3 linked regions of the Homo sapiens genome follow. The protein of the gene in region 1 interacts with the protein of each later gene in a pairwise test. Each region holds a gene or a part of one and is shown in the gene's direction. Other genes may lie near its edges.

Region 1 (6,402 bases):
GCTTCATCCACAGAGCAAATCTCAGAACAGCCAATTCTCCTTGGCCACATGCGTATCCTGGACCAATTCCCTTGACCAAGGAGGTGAGGTGCCTCCATTTGCAGGGCAGGCTCATGGACCCACCCCTGCGTGTGTGTGAGTGGGTGGTGGGGGCAGTCAGTCATTGTGACTGACAGCCCCGCTAGGACCGTATGAAATGAAATGGTGAAGGGCAACTCCCCAAAGGAAGGGATGCCAGGCAGACGGCGAGCAGAATGGATATACTCTACAGACCTTTCCGTTGTGACATTCCTTATATCTCCAAACTTTCACCCCAGCAACCAAGCACTTTTCAGTGTCAGCAGCATCCCTAAGCCTACATTTTAAGCAGTAGAGAAATATAATAATTTTTATTTGTATGGCATTTTAATATTGACAAAGCACTTTTGAACATGTTGCCCATCTGACCATCCATATCGTGTGCCGGAGGGATTCTTATTTTCCCCATGTTACAGATGAGGATACTGAGAGTCAGAGTGATTCAGTTGATAGCAAAATGTCATCCTCGCAAGAACGTGAACTTTGGAAACAAACCTGGACACTGATTTTGACAAACTACTTAACTTCTCTCCAAACCATGGTTTCCTCATCTCTAAAATATGGATAATAATAGCACCTGTCTCACAAGGTTGTGGTAAAGATGAAATAAAACAATGTATGAAGGACCAGTCTCAGCATAGACATACAATAAATGTTAGGCACCCTGTAATTGACTTATTGAGCTCACATAGCATGCAGATAGCTGACTCCAAATCCAGGTCTTTTCCTACCACACCAAACTAATTCCTTCAAAGGTACCTCCTCCCCAGGAGATTAGTATAAAAGTAACTATCATAGCTTTAACTGGGGTGGGTCTTCCAGCGTGCTGGGCACTGGTATCATGATATCCAATTTCCTGACCACGGCGGCAGACTCAGGTCTGGACATGTGCTCCAAGCAGGCCAGCTAGAGTTTTCCCTGAGATTTGCCTATGGATCCTGAGGGACAGAGTCTCTGCTGTTGACTTCCCCAAATAGATAAAGCTTACCAGGAAGTTCTACCATGTACTGGGGCTGCCTTTGGCCATCTGTTCTGCTGTGTGTTGAGTCTCTGCAGAGAAGGAAGCCACCACACCAAGGAAGGCAGTGTTGGGAGAGTCCCAGCGCATGTAACTCAAACAAAGCTTGTCACCCTGGGGCCAATTCAGGATAACATCCAACCACCCGCCATCACCACACATACAAATTCACCTCCAGAAAAGTCTTTCAAGAGTAAAGTCAGCTTTTCCCAAAGTCTCTCAAAAAAGGTAAAGAAGAGGAAAGCACATTATATAATACATGGTAGGACCTCCTGGTAAGCTTTTTTATCTATTTGTCTCCCGCCAAAAACCCCAAGTCAAAATGACTTGGAGGCTGCGTGGTGGCTCATGCCTGTAATTTCAGCAGTTTGGGAGGCCAAGGCAAGAGTACTGGGAGGCCAGGAGTTTGAGACCAGACTGGGCAACATAGGGAGACACCATTTCTACAAAAAATTTTAAAATTAACTAAGTGTGGTGGTGTGTGCCTGAAGTCCCAGCTACTCAGGAGGCTGAGGCAGGAAGATTACTCAAGCCCAAGAGTTTGAGGTTACAGTGAGCTATGATCGCGCCACTGCACTCCAGCCTGCGTAACAGCGTGAGACTCTATCTTTAAAAAAAAAAAAAAAAAGATTCTGTCTCTATTCCTCTTCTCTTGGCCCCTTTTCCCACCTTTTGTTTATTTTCATTTTTTCAAGAAATAGCTTTGTGACTTTTCTGAGTTTTATTTTTTCCCATTCTTTTTGTTTATTTTTAATTATATGAGTAATATACAAATACAGTCTCATTGTAATATATTCAAACAATACACATAAAGCAAAAGTCCTCCTTACTTACTACCCCTTCTCATCCTTCCCTCACCCTCCAGAGGTAACCACTATTAATTGGTTAGGTATGTATCTTTCCTGGCCTTTTTCTATATATTTACATATGTATTTAATAATACCAGGCATTGTCAGGCACTTAACATAAGCACTCTGTTCCTGAAAATCAAGTGTTCAGTAACAAAATGCAATTTGGAAACCTATTTCCGAATTATGTAAAATAGGAAAAATTCAGATGCATTACAGATTAACTCAAAACTCTAAAACACAGTGAAATGCCTACATACAAATGTATAAGAAACAAAGTAACTTGTTAGGATGTAAAATGCCTAAAACTTTACTTCCTTGACCCAGTTCATATGGTTCTAACAACCTTGTGTCGAGTGAACTCAAGTCATTATCCATATAGGTTTTGCTTAAAATGTTGTATTGAGTTGAGGGGACATAAACTAAATTGATTTTATGCAATCAGTAGCCAAAAATGTTGGATTGAGAGAAATGTGCATTTTATGAAACATTGGAGTATGAAACATCAAAAAGCCTTCTAAAGGAAAACACAACTGGGGGAATTGTTCTGCAGGGAATGCCAGCTAGTATTTAGGAATGTTTGCTATAGGCCAAGCACTCTTCTATGCGTTTAAATGGGTGTAGAAATATTTAGCACTGTGGGCCAGGTGTGGTGGCTCACGCCTGTAATCCCAGCACTTTGGGAGGCCGAGGTGGGCAGATCACGAGGTCAGGAGTTTAAGACCATCCTGGCTAACACGGTGAAACCCCATCTCTACTAAATATACAAAAAATTAGCCGGGCGTGGTGGCAGGTGCCTGTAGTCCCAGCTACTCAGGAGGCTGAGGCAGAAGAATGGTGTGAACCTGGGAGGCGGAGCTTGCAGTGAGCGGAGATCGCGCCACTGTGCTCCAGCCTGGGCGACAGAGCAAGATTCCGTCTCAAAAAAAAAAAAAAAAAATTGGCATTGTGGATTCCATTCCTTTTGTTTTTCTAATTTTTATTTTTTAGAGACAAGGTCTTACTCTGTTGCCCAGGCTGGAATGCAGTGACACAATCATAGCTCACTGTAACCTGGAACTCGTGGGCTCAAGGGATCCTGTCACCTCAGCCTCCCAAGTAGATGGGGCTAAAGGCATATGCCACCATGCCTGACTAATTTTTGTATTTTTTGTAGAGACTGTCTGGCTACATTGCCCAGGCTGGTCTCAAACTCCTGGCCTCAAGCAATCCTCCAGTCCCAGCTTCCCAAAGTGCTGGGATTATAGACGCGAGCCACCTTGCCCGGCCTGCCTTCCTTTTAACACAAAGGGTCTGGCCACCTGCTCTTTCCTCTTAGTGTATGTTAGAGAAGGTTTCATAGAGCACACGTAACTCTACTTTTTTTTTTAACTCCTGCATAGAAATCCACAGTATAGATGGACCGTAATGTTTTTTATCATTTGCCTTTGGATGGGCATTTAGTTGTTCCTATTTTTTGCTATTATAAGCAATGCTGCAATAAAATCCTTGTACACGTGGGCAGGGCTTATATGCACTAGGCAGGGATTTTACTAAGATCAACGTGTTGAAATCAAGAGGCTTTTTCCAGTTCTCTTCTCAACCCATTACCAGCGCAGCCCATGGAAGGATTGAGCTGGCAGACAGACCAGACCCTTCCTTAGAAGGCAGGAAAAGGAAAGGGTGTGAACTGTTACAAGTTATTCTTTTTGCCCTGATCCACAGTGATTCTTGAAGGTAAGTATCATCATTTCCATTTTCCAGAGAGCTAGCATTAGGATTTACACCCACTTCTATATGTCTGCAAAGCCTTCTTGTTCTTTCTATTACCCAAGCACTCCTTCTCCAAGATTGGAAGACCAAGCCGCACCGCACCCCTCTGCCTAGGTCTGTGAGGACCCTCCATAACACCAGCTGCTCTGTCTTCCAGGTCCACCTGGCCGGACAGGTAACCGGGGAAAGCCAGGACCAAAGGGCAAAGCCGGGGCCATTGGGCGGGCTGGCCCCCGTGGCCCCAAGGGGGTCAACGGTACCCCCGGGAAGCATGGCACACCAGGCAAGAAGGGGCCCAAGGGCAAGAAGGGGGAGCCAGGCCTCCCAGGCCCCTGCAGCTGTGGCAGTGGCCATACCAAGTCAGCTTTCTCGGTGGCAGTGACCAAGAGCTACCCACGGGAGCGGCTGCCCATCAAGTTTGACAAGATTCTGATGAACGAGGGTGGCCACTACAATGCTTCCAGCGGCAAGTTCGTCTGCGGCGTGCCTGGGATCTACTACTTCACCTACGACATCACGCTGGCCAACAAGCACCTGGCCATCGGCCTGGTGCACAACGGCCAGTACCGCATCCGGACCTTTGATGCCAACACCGGCAACCACGATGTGGCCTCAGGCTCCACCATCCTGGCTCTCAAGCAGGGTGACGAAGTTTGGCTGCAGATCTTCTACTCAGAGCAGAACGGGCTCTTCTATGACCCTTACTGGACAGACAGCCTCTTTACGGGCTTCCTAATCTATGCCGACCAGGATGACCCCAACGAGGTATAGACATGCCACGGCGGTCCTCCAGGCAGGGAACAAGCTTCTGGACTTGGGCTTACAGAGCAAGACCCCACAACTGTAGGCTGGGGGTGGGGGGTCGAGTGAGCGGTTCTAGCCTCAGGCTCACCTCCTCTGCCTCTTTTTTTCCCCTTCATTAAATCCAAACCTTTTTATTCATCCAACCATCTATTTATTCACTTCTTTTTAAAGTATCTACTGTGTAACAGGCACTATGCTATTCTCTGAAAGATGCAGCAGTGGACAAGACAGAGTATCTGTCCTCATGCAGCTTACATTCTAGCAGGAGATACAATTTACAAATATACAAGCAAATAATATAATATTATGCCAGGATAGAAATGAACATGCCATGGTTGACAGTAATAGGAATAACAGGAGACAGGGAAGAGGTGGAAATTTGTTTCTTTTTTTAAGTTTGCGTTTTTAGGTTTACTTACATACAGTGACTCTCCAGATTTTAAGTTGACAACTCAGTGAATAATTTTTGCTTATGTGCACACTCTGAAACCTCCATGTAGATCAAAGAACAAGCTATTTCCAACTTCTCACCTCCCTTCCCCAAAAGCTCTCTTAAGACCCCTCTAAGTCAGTACCTGGAAAATTTCCATTTTTGAGCTGAGTTCCAAAGAAGGAAATAGAGCAACACAAAGGCCTCGAAAAGAGGTCTCCAGCAAAAGGCTCTGCAAGTGCAAAGACCTTGACAGGAAAGAGGGAGGGGCCAAGGTAAGAACTGAGAAGGGAGGCATGAGGCGTGAGGCTGGAAGATAATACAGAATGTCCCAGGCCATGGCAGAGCTCGTTCCATTCACGAAGGCTTATCAGAATACAAAGTGACACTGATAGGCGGATCATCTTGAATCTGCTCATTGCATGAGTCAAGTCGGCCACAGACTTGAGCGCTTTATTATTAGTTAATCTTTTGCAGGCCCGCTTCTCAATGAATGAGATACACCAGGATATGCACGTGCATCTGAGAACCGCTGCTCTGAGATGGCAGGAATGGATCCCACGCAAATGAATCGCACCCCAAGCACAGGTGTTGCCAGTATGCAGGGATCTGGGGGCTTAAGAAGCTGCAGTAAAAGTGCCAGGTGCTGGCGGGATGTGGTAGCTCATGCCTATAATCCCAGGACTTTGGGAAGCTGAGGTGGACGGATCATTTGAGGTCAGGAGTTCAAGACCAGCCTGACCAACATGGCAAAACATCGTCTAAAAAAATACAAAAATTAGACAGGCGTGGTGTTGGGTGCCTGTAATCCCAGCTACTGGGGAGGCTGAGGCGGGAGAATCGCTTGAACCCAGGAGGTGGAGGTTGCAGTTAGCTGAGATCCTGCCACTGCACTCCAGCCTGGGCAACAGAGTGAGACTATCTCAAAAAAAAACAAAAAAAAAAAAAAAACAAAAACAAAAACGCAGGTACTGAGAGACCCATGAAACGATTTGCTGGAGATAATTTTCAGTTGGAGCTGCAGCTCCCTAGCAGCTTTCTCTGGCTGCCCGCCTAGTGAGATCCTCAGGGACAAGGATAGCTGCACGGGATAGTTCCAGAAGGAGTGGCCATCTCCATAAATAAAATCGGGTTTATTTAAAATAACTCCATTGTCTCTGGGCCATAAATGGTTTGGGATTGGGGTGGGTCTGAAACATTCAGGAAAGGCTTTCTGGCCCAATCAGATTGACGTGTGGGTTGGGGTCCCCTGCAGCACCCCTGTGGGAAGGGGTCAGCTTTGGTCAGTGAACAGTTCTTTTTACCTTTTCTTTTTCTTACAAAAATAAATTTTAGGAGAGCCTTTCGCTTCTTCCTCTTCCTTCCCTCAGGGATATAGGCATTTGAAGGCATTTGACTTAACCCTTTGTAGCCCAGGTAATAAATCCAAACTCAGCAAGATGGGCTGGACCCCAGAGCTCTGTGGTTGCCAC
Region 2 (7,029 bases), on another chromosome or scaffold:
GTAGGTGAATTAATTAAGATTGGATTTGGCAGTGAGTGACAGAAACCCAATATAGTGGTAGCTTAAAAAGGTAGTTCACTTCTCGGACAAACACGGGTAATCCAGGTTTGGTGACTACATGATTATCAAGAACCTGGGCCCCTTTACTCTTGTTGCTCTACCATTTCTAACACTCAGCTGCTACTTCATGGTTCTGTTTGGCTGCTATAGCTATAGCCATCCTTTTTACATTCTAGTCAACAGGGAGGAAAAAGAGGAGATACTTTCTCCTTTTAAAGAAACTTCCCAGCAGTTGTCCAGAACTTTTAGTCCAGTTGGCCATACCCAGTTGTAAGGGAGCCCGGAAAATAAGTTTTTATTTTAGGCAGCCTTGTGTGCAGATAGTTTCTACCACTGTAGGGAAAGGAGAGAACATATGTGGCAGGGATAACAGCCTCTACCAGGATAAGCTCTTGGGAGCTTTGAATGGCTCAATCAGTAAACAATATTGCTTATTATAAGTAGTGCACTATGAAAGATGAATTGTGGGAAAATGAGGGAGATTGGGGGAAGGAGAACAGAATTGAAAAAAAAAATTAAAAATCTCCCCCTTGCTTTTCTAAGAGATGCCATTTACTTGAGGAGATCAGACATGCATACATAAGTTACAGAGCAATGTAAGAATCAGAGGATGCAATTAGTGGGGGAATCAGACTCACGTGGGATTTATTTTTGGAGGCAGGCATCTCTAAAGGACTGGAGTTTTGAGAAAACAGAAGAGAATTGACATACTTTTGGGTAAATGGAGTTCTTTGTACAAGATATTAATCACTGTTTTGTACCCTTAACACTTAAGAGTCTTAACACTTATTTCTAATGTAGAGTTGAGGAAGGAATTATAATAAACCTATGAGAAATCTCTGTTGAGTAAAATGATAAATAATATCCTTGTTAATTTATTAATTTATCTTATCTTACTTTTGACAGCTATTTATAGTACTTTCAATTTCAAAATAGACAAAAGGTTTGTCTTCCAATTTGTATGTGGTAATTAGAACCATTGTAACTTATGACCTCCCCAATTGAATAACTGAATTATTTTATAGAAATAACATAGTAAATTTTGTGAATAGAGAAAAAGAAGCCAAGAAGTCATAGAAGAGAGAACAAGGGGAGTGGACTTTGAGTATTGTAAAAAACAGTGGGTTTGGCAGAGTTCACTGGTGTCTTAAAAACATTTAAAAATGAATTAGTGTGATCTAGTAATAGAGTTTTGCATTTTTTTACTTAATATTATAATGTGTACATTTTTTCTTGATGTAAAATTTTTTCTAAAGCATGAGTTTTAAAATTGATTGTGTATAGCATTCCATAGTTTGGATTTACTATAATGATTTACCCCATACCCTTATTATTAGACATTTAAATTGCTTATAACATTTTTGTAACTATGAGCAAAGATAAACAATTTAAGTCTTTAAAAAGTGAATTCGTGAGCACAGAAACTACATGTTGGAATATAGGGTATTACTGGAGAGAACTTTGAGGTAGCAGAGATAGTATTTTGAGTTTTCCTCTAAAATGAGGAAGATGATGATCCTATAGAAAATAGTGGAATGAAGCAATTAATAGCTTATAAAATTTGGACTTTAGTCATCTACTTAAGAAAATTAAAGCTATATATATAGTATTGCTGGTTTACATAAACTAATACAGTAACATAAATGTGGATAATTTACATTTTATTCCTTAGGTATACATACATACTTTAAGTTTCATGTATTTACTGATGTCTAAATCATACTGATTTTTAAGTAGTGACATGACATTTTTGTTTGGAAAACAAATCCTTCACTTTAAATTGGTTCATTGTTTTCTATTAGAGTTTTGTAGTATGAAACTATTCAGTTTAGAAAAGAAATGCATACAAATTTCTGTTCAAATATGCATATGCTTTTTACTGGGCTTATTGTATGTATCTTGATTTACAGGCCTTTTTGCAAATGTGTAACTTGCCTATCAAAGTAGTTTGTAGGGCAAATGCAGAATATATGTCTCCATCTGGTAAGTGTGTTTTTTTTTCTTCTCTGTTAATATTATGGAGTGATAAAATTATAGTGATAGTCCAGTTTGTATCTACATGTTAAAATGCCTGATTTTTTTTGTTTACCCTTTGAAGAATCTTTCCATGGTTTTAGAAAGTAACAATTGCAAATTTGACAATCTTGGGGTTGGCATATCTATTCATTTCAACTGTGATCAGAGATGGTTACTGACGTGTGGAAATGGTTTTAATAGTAAGGGAATTGTTTTAAATAGTAAATGTTAAGGAAATACATGATCTCAGATTTCCCTAGTCTTAATGTACATAAGACTTTCCTGTTGAGAAAACAAATTTTAGTAATAATGAATCCATTTATTATTCCACACATCTTTCTTAATTATATTCTCCCATAATACAGCTGGAAGAAGAGAGATTGTAGAAAAATTAATTTGTCGTTAGATCTTGAAGTCATCACTGAATGTTTTTGGTTTCTAATTATTTTTTCTAATGCTTAATTTTAACAGGTTTTGAGATGCTTTAGCTTCCTATTTTTTAAAATCAGTATTATCTTTATGTCAGTAGATTAAATTACTGTTTTAAATAAATAATTCAAAATTTTTAATATAAAAATGTGCTACAAAGCTGATAAATAAATGTTATATATAATTATCATGGATGATTATTGTAATTATGGTTTTGTTGGAGCAATAATACGTAGAATTACTCCTTTTTGAATAAATTATTAAGTATAACTGATTGGTATAAGTGTGTAACATTGCTTTTTAGGGAGACATTTTTCATTTTGATATGATAATTTAGGAGTGACTTGTGTTAAATTTTTTTTTTCCACCTTAAGTTTTTAAGGGTGGTAGAAATTGTTAAAAGGTATGAAGACACCCCTTCTGTACATAATGTTCTTTTATATAAATACCTGGTTTTAGAGGTTTATGAATATACATTTAGAAAACATTTCCATAAAATAATTTCTAGGCTTGTAAATGTAAACATATTTTAGATTCTTGGAGGGCATTCATTGACTCATTTTTGTGTTGGTTTTATACGTAGATTTTAGGAACTACAGAGTTCTGGTGAAATAAGTTATGTTGTGTTTTGTCCATCCTTTTCCTCTATGTAGTCATACAAACAGTTTGTATATTTATGTAAAAAGGTTAGAAGGTTAGTAATCTAATGCTAAAGTTCAGATCTTTGGCAAGTGAGATATCAATATAGTTTATCTACCTGTTTCCTAAAATTACTATACTTAGTGTCATTTAGGTAGATACCTATTTTCTTTTTATTAGATTGCGCGAAAGACAAACATAAATATTCTAGAGACATACAAAAATATACATTCTTTCATAGGAGTCTCCTATAGGTAGATGAAAATGGCACTTTCTACTAAGATATTTAAACTTTATCATATCTCAGATTGGTATTCTCTTTCATTTAATGATTTGAGGTGATAGGGAAATGTTTTTTATTGTATTTGCTTCTTTGATCTTGCGGTAGATTTTTAAAGCAGAGAGCATGGACTAGTCAGAAGACCAGTTGACTTAAACTCTTATTTCCTAAAGAGTTAGGAAATCTTTAACTAATCCTTCTGTGACTTTGTCACATATTAACTATTTCCTTGAGAAATTTCACTTCTCTGAGCCTCAGTGACTTCATCTGTAATATAAGGTAGCCGGATTAGATGACATCCAAGGTCCTATTTCTTGCATTCTTTGAATCTGCCAACTTGTTTGGCAACATATTCTTGCTTTCTTTAGAATAAAAATTTTAAAAGTGATTATTCTGTCTAAGACGGTAAACAAAGCCCTCAGTTTTCTTATATGACCTTTGATTCGCACCAGAAAATAACTGTCTTACTGTGTTTTTGCCTGATACCTGCAATAATAAGGATATAACATTGGCTCCATTTTCATTAAGCAGGCTAGTGACAGAAAACATTATTCACTTCTAATTTGTTGTGTTTGTTTTTATATATCTCTTTATATTTAGAGATATATAAGATTAATACTCAGTTGACTATCCACACTTCTTTTTGCTTCAGAATTGACAACGCTCAATGTATTTTTAAGAAAAGAAAAAAAATACAAACCCTTTTTTCCAAGAACCTGAAACTGGTCATTAAAAACAAGGAATATGCTTTGCTCTAAAAATATTATACCCCCAAATACTGTTTGTCTAGGTACTAAATAGTTTTCATTCTCAGATCATTTGATCTCAGGGGACCTGTAATAATTCTGGTAGTATAGTAGTTACAAAGATTTTATCCCGAGTTAAGAAAACAATGTGGCCTAATGCTTAACCAGATAAAAAAATTTTTTTTTGCAAGATTTATAAAGCAGTAGAAGGAAGGAATGCAGAATTGGCAACAGGGAAATATCTTCTCAATACATCTATTGAGTTGTTGTGTTCCAAAAGGCCTGCCTTTTCTTTGTAATGCATGTTGTCCTATGGATGCAGTTGAAGCTTTTGTTAGGCCTCTGTACTTCATCCATTACCCCCAGGCTGACGGAGCCAGAGAGGAGTGAATCTATTGAAAAGGAACAGGAAGAAGCCTGCTGTTAGTGTGAACTCTATTTGAACTAGGTGTGACAGCAGGTTTCATTCTTTAGCATTTGGAGTAGACCCTTCTTGCTATTTGGAGATTATTTTGTTCTCTCATCTCTAATAATTCCAAGTATTAGTATTTGTTAAAGTGAAATATTTCTTTTTTAATGTGACATTTATCTATAGAAGCTAGTTTTTATAAACATACTATTATTTTTTCCCACATGTTGGGAACATACTCTGTATTACAACTCACCAACTAGCATGCCTTCAAAGATTGTTAATTCTTTTAATTCTTGCTATTTTGAGTTAAAGAGATTTATTGATATACAATTACTTGCTTAAAATGTTGATCTCAATGGGTATCAAAGACTTAAAAGATGTAAAAAGGTTTTTTAAATGTAGTTTACAATATAGATTGATTCACTGTACTCTGAAAAGAAAGCTTACATTTCTTTGAAATATATCAGTGGTCATGTACCAGTGTCCTGGCTTGGTTCATGTAATTTGGATAATTAGTGTTTGCTGCTATATGGTGATATGTTTGTGTTGGCTCTGAAAAGAGAATGTTATGTGATCTGTTATTATATCTAAGTGAGAACTCTAGAAATGAATTTACCTGTTCTTTTTTTCTAAAGTTGGTTAGTAATCAGTTTAAAAACTTACAGAATTTAATATACACATCTGACAAAAATTTTCAAAAGTTACAGTTTTATGAAATCCCTATTTATAAATACCTGAGTTTTGTGTTAATTTTTTTTAATTATCACAAACTTTAACATACTGGAAGTATTTTTATAAATACTTTTTTTTTCTCTCAACAGGTAAAGTACCTTTTATTCATGTGGGAAATCAAGTAGTATCAGAACTTGGTCCAATAGTCCAATTTGTTAAAGCCAAGGTAATAAAAAGATATTAAATGTATTTGATCAGTTACCAAGTCATTCATCATTCTTTAATGTGTCTTAACATTTACATTGATTTCAACCTAGTTTTATAAAATGCCAATGCAAACTACTGGAAAATATTTCTGAAGTGTAAGTTAGTATTTTTTCATGATATAATGGCAAAAGAGGTAGCTTTTTTTCCTCTATTAATGTCAAATTTATTAAAGGTATGTAATTTTAATATCTAGTCTAAAGAGATGGTTTGATCTTTACAAAATGGTAGATAATTTTCTAACTTATGCTTACTACAACTGTGGTCATAAATGAAAAACTATTAGGTTTTGAAGTGTCTGGCTGACCTTTGAAAAGGGAGATACAGGATTTGTTTGAAGTTGAATGTATTTATCCATTTGAATGATTCTGCTTTTCATTTATTCAGTTTAGATTTTAATAGTTATTAAGGAACAACTCCCATTAGTGTTTCTGAAAAATCATTCCAGACTTTTTGAATATATAGAAAAACCTAGATCATACTAGTGTGTATTATTTTGCAACATACCTTTTAAAATCATAAATATGTTTGGAAATTCTTCCATATTAATAGCTGTAGGTATATATCATCCTTTCACATTGTTGTATTCTGCTGTATTGGAGATATATATATATCTCCAAAATATATATATATATTATTTTTTTTTTCTTCAACACCCTCCCCCTGTATTGGATAAATTAGAATTTTATTTACTCAAGTTTATTGTTGGGCTTTTAGGTCATGGCCAATTTTTTGTTTTTATAGAGTACTAAGATAAATTTTCTTATATATACATCTTTGTATAAATTCCTAAGGTTGGTATTGGTACCTTAGGATAAATTCCTGAGAGTGGTATTAGGATGTCATAGGTTATGTACTTTTTAAATCTTGTAATAGATTGCCAGATTGAACTAAAGGTTATATCATTTTATGTATCTCCTAGTAACTATAGAGTATTAGAATTTTAAAATAAGTGGGTTTCTCCCCCCATATCTTTACAAACGTATTTTTTTCATCTTTGACCACTTTATAAACAGCACATGTCAGTCTTTTGGCATTTCCTTTATTTCTAAATAAGGTTAATCTCTTAAACAAGGTTTGCTGACCATTCTGTTTTCTTCTTTTGTGAAGTAGTTGATAGTGTAATTTTCTCTATTGAAAGATACATTTGTATAATGACAAGTAAGTACATACTAATATTTTGTAGTGATAGCAGAGTATTATTTATGCTTTTATATAAAATAATTTTTAGGGGGCATTTTGGACGTTTAATTCATTGTATAGTTGCATGTTACGTTATTTGTTAGTGAGATAACTGAAAGTTTTTGTATATTTAATATGATGTTCTTTTAAATTTTTTTAAATTCCCTTTAGGGCCATTCTCTTAGTGATGGGCTGGAGGAAGTCCAAAAAGCAGAAATGAAAGCTTACATGGAATTAGTCAACAATATGCTGTTGACTGCAGAGGTAAAATACTAGATGATACGGCTTGAAAATAAGCTTTTTCTCTCATTCTCATAAAATATAATCTT
Region 3 (7,029 bases), on another chromosome or scaffold:
AAAAAAAAATTAACTGGGTGTGGTGGTGTGTGCCCATAGTCTCAGCTACTCAGGAGACTGAGGTGGGAGGATCACTTGAGCACCGGAGGTCAAGGCTTCAGTGAGTCATGATCACACACTGCAGCCTGGGTGACAGAGTGAGAGCCTGTCTCAAAAAATAAATAAATAAAAAATAGATAGATAGATTGATTGATTGATATAGAGAGGATAAGTAAAAACAAAAACATGTATGTACTATAAAACCTGGGATGGGCTGGGCGTGGTGGCTTATGCCTATACTCCTAACACTTTGAGAGGCCAAGGCAGGCGAATCACTTGAGGTCAGGAGTTTGAGACCAACCTGGCCAACATAGTGTGAAACCCTGTCTCTACTAAAAATACATAAATAAATAAATAAATAAATAGCCAGGTGTGGTGGTGCATGCCTATAATCCTAGCTACTCAGGAGGCTGAGTTGGGAGGATTGCTTGAACCCAGGAGGTGGAGGTTGCAGTGAGCCGAGATCACACCACTGCACACTCCTCATAAGTGCCTGGAAGGGCAACACAGTGAGACTCCATCTCAAAAAAAAAAAAAAAAAAAAAAAAACAACCCTGGGATAGAGGCAGAGAAGAAAGGAAGTGGTGGGCAGTGTGGGTGGTCTGTCTTACCTTTCATAATGGAGAGCTGGTGCCTACTGTTTAGAATTCACAAACACAGAGTTCAAAGTGGTTGCCACTGTGGCTAGGGTAGGAGACATCTTTTTATTTCTCATTCTTCCATGTACTTCAAAAATTATCACGCCCTGTATATCAGTTAACTGTTAATGTAAGAAAATAACATGAGGTGGTGCAGTGGCAGCCGTGTGAATGCCGGTTGATCAGTCTTGCATTCAGGACTTGTGGAGAACCGCCCTGGGGGATGGTTTTGAGCAGAGCAGTTCCTCGTTCCCACAGGTGCCTCATTTTTCCCTGGTTCCATTCAGAACATCATTTACTGCCTAGAGCTAATTCCAGATCCTCCTCCCACCCGGGGCAGTTTATCAAAGGCAAAATAAAGAGGGTGGGCCGGGGACAGTGGCTCACACCTGTAATCCCAGCACCTTGGGAGGCCGAGGCAGGTGGATCACCTGAGGTCTGGAGTTCGAGACCAGCCTGGCCAACATGGTGAAACCCTGTCTCTACTAAAAATACAAAAAATTAGCTGGGCGCGGTGGTGCATGCCTGTAATCCCAGCTACTCAGGAGGCTGAGGCAGGAGAATTGCTTGAACCTGGGAGGCGGAGGTTACAGTGAGCTGTGATCCTGCTACTGCACTGCAGCCTGGGCGACAAGAGCAAAACTCCATCTCAAAAGAAACAAACAAATAAACAAATAAAGAAGGTGGGTGGGGGTGACTCCCTGAAAGTTTCTAGACGCCTCTTCTAAAGATAAAAACATAATGTGATGCCTGAAAGAGGGAAGAACTGCCCCAAAGAGTCTGGGATGTGGCTGAGGTGGCCACTTTGCCAGGAGCTGATGAGGGGGATGAAAGTAAGAACTGATTTTAATCTTCGCCTCTCGTACAACCCCTGGTGGGCACCGGATGATGCCCTGTTCCACTGATTTTAAGTTGCATTTTCCCCCCCGCATTTCCACATTCTCCAAGTGAGAACGTGTCCCGCAGTGTGAGGGTGAGCTGTCGTGATATAATTAGAGTCTCTTGGCCTTCTTGGTGGTCCATAAGATAGCGGCATGCCTTCCGATGGGGGACCCGGGAGTTGCTGAGTCGCAGCGCTTGCACAGCGATGGGCTTATTTGGTCTCTCCGGCACATGGCTCAGCCCTGCTCCGTGGCCGTGGGTGGCGTCCCCGGCTGACCCCCTGTCTTGCAGGTGTAGTCGCCGCCGCCAGCCGCCATGGGCAAACAGAACAGCAAGCTGCGGCCCGAGGTGCTGCAGGACCTGCGGGAGAACACGGAGTTCACCGACCACGAGCTGCAGGAGTGGTACAAGGGCTTCCTCAAGGACTGCCCCACCGGCCACCTGACCGTGGACGAGTTCAAGAAGATCTACGCCAACTTCTTCCCCTACGGCGACGCTTCCAAGTTCGCCGAGCACGTCTTCCGCACCTTCGACACCAACGGCGACGGCACCATCGACTTCCGGGAGTTCATCATTGCGCTGAGCGTGACCTCGCGGGGCAAGCTGGAGCAGAAGCTCAAGTGGGCCTTCAGCATGTACGACCTGGACGGCAACGGCTACATCAGCCGCAGCGAGATGCTGGAGATCGTGCAGGTACCGGCGCCCGAGGCCCCGGGTCTCACCGCGGGCCCAGGTCCCCTCCCAGCTCCCAGCCCCCAGCCCAGGGCTTTTTTTTTTTTTTTTTTTTTTAAGACAGGAATCTTGCTCTAGTGACTGGAGTGCAGTGGCACTATCTCAGCTCACTGCAACCTCTGCCTCCTGGGCTCAGGTGATTTTTCCGCTTCAGCCTCTTGAGCACCTCCATGCCCTGTTAATTTTTTTGGTATTTTTGATGGTAGAGAGAGGGTTTTGCCACATTATCCAGGCTGGTCTTGAACTCCTAGGCTCAAGCGATCTGCCCGCCTCAGCCTCCCAGAGTGCTAGAATGACAGGTGTGAGCCACCGTGCCTGGCCTCCCTGTGTTCTTTATGTTCACTCGACATTGGGTCTTTCTTGGCCAGGTTGCTACCTGGTGCACTTTGGAAAGTGAGCAGTTGTCACCTGATTGGGCAGACCCTTGCAAAGGGCAATGGTAAAAGCCAATGTTTATTGATCACTTGCTATACATCAGGGCCGGGTGGAGCACTTTGATCCGTTTTCATCTTCATAACCCAACAACGTGGGTCATTCTCTGCATTTTACAAAGTCTGAGACTCAAATAGATGAATTTCTAAAAATTATATTTTATATATATTTGGAGATGGAGTCTCACTTTGTCGCCCAGGCTGGAGTGCAGTGGCATGATCTCGGCTCACTGCAACCTCCACCTCCTGGGTTCAAGAGATTCTCCTGTCTCAGCCTCCCATGTAGCTGGGATTACAGGTATGTGCCACCGCAGCCAGCTAATTTTTGTATTTTTAGTAGAGACGAGGTTTCACCATGTTGGCCAGGCTAGTCTTAAACTCCTCACCTCAGTTGATCTGCCTTCAGCCTCCCAAAGTGCTAGGATTACAGGCATGGGCCACCGTGCCTGGCCAAGAATTGTATGATTGCTGGGCTCCTTGGCACTTGCAAGAGGTACCTGCCAAGACCTGGGGAAAGCCCTGGATTTGAGAACTCAACAGATAGCTTGTGATGTCCCCAGGAATGCGCAGTCATCAAGTAAAACTGAAGCATTAACGATCACGAGAATCAGCTCAGCACGGGAAAGACGTCACTTTAGGAGGCATCTCTTCACCTTCATGCCTATCAACAGCTCTAGCAGAAAGGCCATGTTTCAGAAGGAAACCAAGTTTTGTTCACTTGGCCAGGTGCCTAGGTATGCGAGAGAGAGTAGAGAGCAGAGCTGCCCCTCCCTGGCATTCCCCTGAGTGCCTCCCTGAGCCCAGGAGCATCCAATTCTAGAACTCATGGCCAGGCCTGTAATCCCAACACTTTGGGTGGCCGAGGCTGGAGGATCGCGTGAGCCCGGGAGTTTGAGACCAGCCTGGGCAATATAGTGAGACTCCATCTCTATAAAAAATTAAAAGAGTAGCAGGGCATAGTGGCATGCACCTGTAGTCCCAGCTACTTGGGAGGCTGAGATGGGAGGATTGCTTGAGCCCAGGAGTTCAAGGTGACAGTGAGCTGTGATTGCACTGCTGCATTCCAGCCTGGGTGACAGAGTGAGACCCTGCCTCCAAAAAGACCAAAAGCAAAATAAGAAAAAAATGGAACTCTTCAGAAGGGGTGGTCCCATGGTAGGGAACTTCAGGGGTGGGCCTCCAGTAGCGGGTATCAAATCCGTGAACTTCTGCAGCAGCAGTGGCCCGCCTCAGGAATGAGCGACCCATTTCCCACGTAGATGGTTTTCACACTGTCAGAGTAAATTAACATGGGCTCGGGGAACTCTGGTACTGTCGTCACTTTCTGGCTCTTAGCTTCATGCAGTGGCGGAAGTAAGAATTCTATTCCCCAGGAATCACCCGTCCTGTCCTGTGTGTTAACCCTTACCCTTTGCAAATAGGTGTGCCTGTCACTGGCCGTGCAGAGGCTTGGTCAGAACATCAAGGCACTGGTAGAACTGTTCCAAGCAGTGAGGAGCAGCCACTTCTGTCCAAACGGGACAGCCCCCAAACCAAGTCCCCAAACCCTGAAAGCCTTCCCCCGACGCCATCGATGGCTCCCTGGCCGGCTGGGTGGTGTTTCTCATGGGACACTTGGTTGCTACCTCTTTCTCACAATGAGAAAATGGTCTGTTGTCAGGAATGAGAATATCAAGCCACCTTCACGTGGAGTGCTCAGAAAATCCCACAGCAGTGCCACCACTCCCCACGCATGTCACTCTGCTCAGTGGCCACTCACCAGTCCCATCACCGTCTCCTCTGTACACCCACCAGCAGCACAGAGTCACATGCCCCAGGCTGGGCCACTCAGGCAGAGACACGCAGAGAGACCAGTGGCTAGACTGAGCCCTCGGCTGACAGTGCCCTAAACAGGCCATGGAGACCCCAGTGCTGCTGCTTCCTGTCCTGTCGGGGCTGGTGATGGGGCTTGCCCTGTGAGTTTCAGGGACTCAGTCTCTTTTAAACTGAGGGGTAACAGCCATGGAGTAAAATGCACACAGCTCAGCAGGCAGTGTGGGGAATTTCACACATCTGTGACCACCACTCTCCCTCAGCATTCCCAGCCCCCGACAGGGACACTTAGGCACCTTCCTGGCACTACCCACCCCCAGGCAGAGATACCAGCACCCTCACCACCCTCCCAGTAGAACCCTTCTGCCAGCTCTGCTCTTGAACTTCACATAGACACCCGTGAGGTTCACTAGGGAACATTCTCCCCACTGGGGAAGGGTCCCGAAGGCCACCGGGAGCCCCTGACCTCTCCGAGCCTTGTTGTGGGCTGGGCGGAAGCCCACCCTTGCTGCACCCGCCCAAGCCCCCGGGCCTCTGAGCACAGTGTCATTGCCCCCATCCGCAGGCCATCTACAAGATGGTGTCGTCTGTGATGAAGATGCCGGAGGATGAGTCCACCCCGGAGAAGCGCACAGACAAGATCTTCAGGCAGATGGACACCAACAATGACGGTAGTGCGGGGTGGGGGCGGGGCTGCATGTGTACGCCACGGTAGGGGCAAAACCATGTGGTTTGGGGCACCCCCTCCCCTCTGCAGCTTCTTGGTCTCCTGAGGGCCACCCCCGCCCGCCACCTGCCTGGCGCCTGCCATGCCCAGGGAAGAGCGGGATGCAGTCAGGGACACCCGTGCTGTATCCTGGCTCCTCTGTGCAGCTTTGTGATGCTGGGCATGTTGTGGCCTCTCTGAGCCACTGTCTCCCCACTTATAGAATCGGGCATACCCATATTCCCGTGGGTACAATGTTTAGGGGCAGGGAGGCAAGCATGCTGGTGGCCCTGAACCTGGAGGGGTTGAGATCAAAGGATCCCAGATGTTGGGGTCCTGGGGTGCTGGCCATGCCTCTCTTGCTGCCATCCTGAGAGAAGAAGCTGCCCAGATGGCCCCAGTGTCCAAGGGGAACTGTCAGGATGTACGCTGCCACCTTGTCCACCTACAGCAGCTCTGTGGAGACTCAGCCCCACTGCAGAAGTGCAAGTCTCACGATGGTGGGTGGCAGCAGTGGTGACAGGGCTGTGCCTCGAGTGCCCTCCTCTGCATTGGCTGTGAGGTGAGGGCGGCTGTGCGGCCCTCCCATTCTGCTCTTCTTGCCGGCTTTGTCAAGAGCAGCCACAGCACCAGGTTTGCTTTGCTTTTGAGCAATAAAGAAACACGACCTTAAGAAGAGAAAATACAGGCTGGGCGCAGTGGCTCACGCCTGTAATCCCAGCACTTTGGGAGGCCGAGGTGGGCAGATCACGAGGTCAGGAGATCGAGACCATCCTGGCTAACACGGTGAAACCCCGTCTCTGCTAAAAATACAAAAAAATTAGCCAGGCGTGGTGGCGGGCGCCTGTAGTCCCAGCTACTCGGGAGGCTGAGGCAGGAGAATGGTGTGAACCCGGGAGGCAGAGCTTGCAGTGAGCCGAGATCGCACCACTGCACTCCAGCCTGGGCGATAGAGTGAGACTCCATCTCAAAAAAATAAAGAGGAAATACTCCCTGGGTTGTGCTGGGGATTAAACGATAAGCTAATGCCCAAGAAGCTGCTCTGCGAAGTCTGGAGTGCAGCCCTCGGGTGAGTTAAGCATGGCCCCAGCGGGAGACGGGATGTGGGGGAGCTGTAAGCAGCAAAGAGCATTCCAGGCAGCCAGGTCACAGTTTCAAAACACACACACACAGAAAACAAGGCTGCCTGGTGCCTGGCGTTGCCTTTGGGCTGATGGGAAATGTGTGTTCCACCCTCCAGCCTAGCAGGGCACCTGCTGCCGCTCTCCTGAGGCTGTCCGCTCCTCGTGGGGATGGTGAATCCGGTCCCATGGGGTTGTGAGGTTTCAGCGAGATGATGCCTTAAAGCTTTTAGCAGGGCTTGCACTCCACAAATAATGGCTGTTGTTCCCAACTTCACAGTGTCCCTGGGGAAGCCACCCATGGTCACTCGCTGCCCGAATCTGCCTCCTGGCTTGGCCCTGCCCACCTCTTCAGAGGGCATCTTCTAGGTTGGTTGGGAATTTGGATGGCATGGTCGTTGCTAATGTGCCTGCTGGGATGGAGCACTTCCTCCTGTGAGCCCAGGGGACCCGCCTGTCCCTGGAGCTTGGGGCAAGGAGGGAAGAGTGATACCAGGAAGGTGGGGCTGCAGCCAGGGGCCAGAGTCAGTTCAGGGAGTGGTCCTCGGCCCTCAAAGCTCCTCCGGGGACTGCTCAGGAGTGATGGTGCCCTGGAGTTTGCCCCAACTTCCCTGGCCACCCTGGAAGGTGCCTGGCTGCTCCAGGCCTCTAGGCTGGGCTGATGGGTT

The links. The genes of interacting proteins can lie anywhere in the genome.
Region 2: the proteins of C1QTNF2 (region 1) and MTX2 interact in binary tests that used the Homo sapiens proteins (3 or more experiments, as listed by UniProt).
Region 3: the proteins of C1QTNF2 (region 1) and HPCAL1 interact in binary tests that used the Homo sapiens proteins (3 or more experiments, as listed by UniProt).

The regions. Positions count from the first base shown.
Region 1 is NC_000005.10:160,347,233-160,353,634, reverse strand, and holds the end of C1QTNF2 (complement C1q tumor necrosis factor-related protein 2 isoform 1 precursor), read left to right. Parts: intron 1-3,758; coding exon of another isoform or gene 3,759-3,853; coding exon 3,854-4,467; 3' UTR 4,468-5,881; downstream 5,882-6,402. UniProt on the Homo sapiens protein: Involved in the regulation of lipid metabolism in adipose tissue and liver.
Region 2 is NC_000002.12:176,321,422-176,328,450, forward strand, and holds part of MTX2 (metaxin-2), read left to right. Parts: intron 1-1,970; coding exon 1,971-2,043; intron 2,044-5,403; coding exon 5,404-5,480; intron 5,481-6,871; coding exon 6,872-6,964; intron 6,965-7,029. UniProt on the Homo sapiens protein: Involved in transport of proteins into the mitochondrion.
Region 3 is NC_000002.12:10,417,884-10,424,912, forward strand, and holds part of HPCAL1 (hippocalcin-like protein 1), read left to right. Parts: exon of another isoform or gene 1-582; intron 583-1,850; 5' UTR 1,851-1,874; coding exon 1,875-2,252; intron 2,253-5,099; coding exon 5,100-5,205; intron 5,206-6,641; coding exon of another isoform or gene 6,642-6,730; exon of another isoform or gene 6,731-7,029. UniProt on the Homo sapiens protein: May be involved in the calcium-dependent regulation of rhodopsin phosphorylation.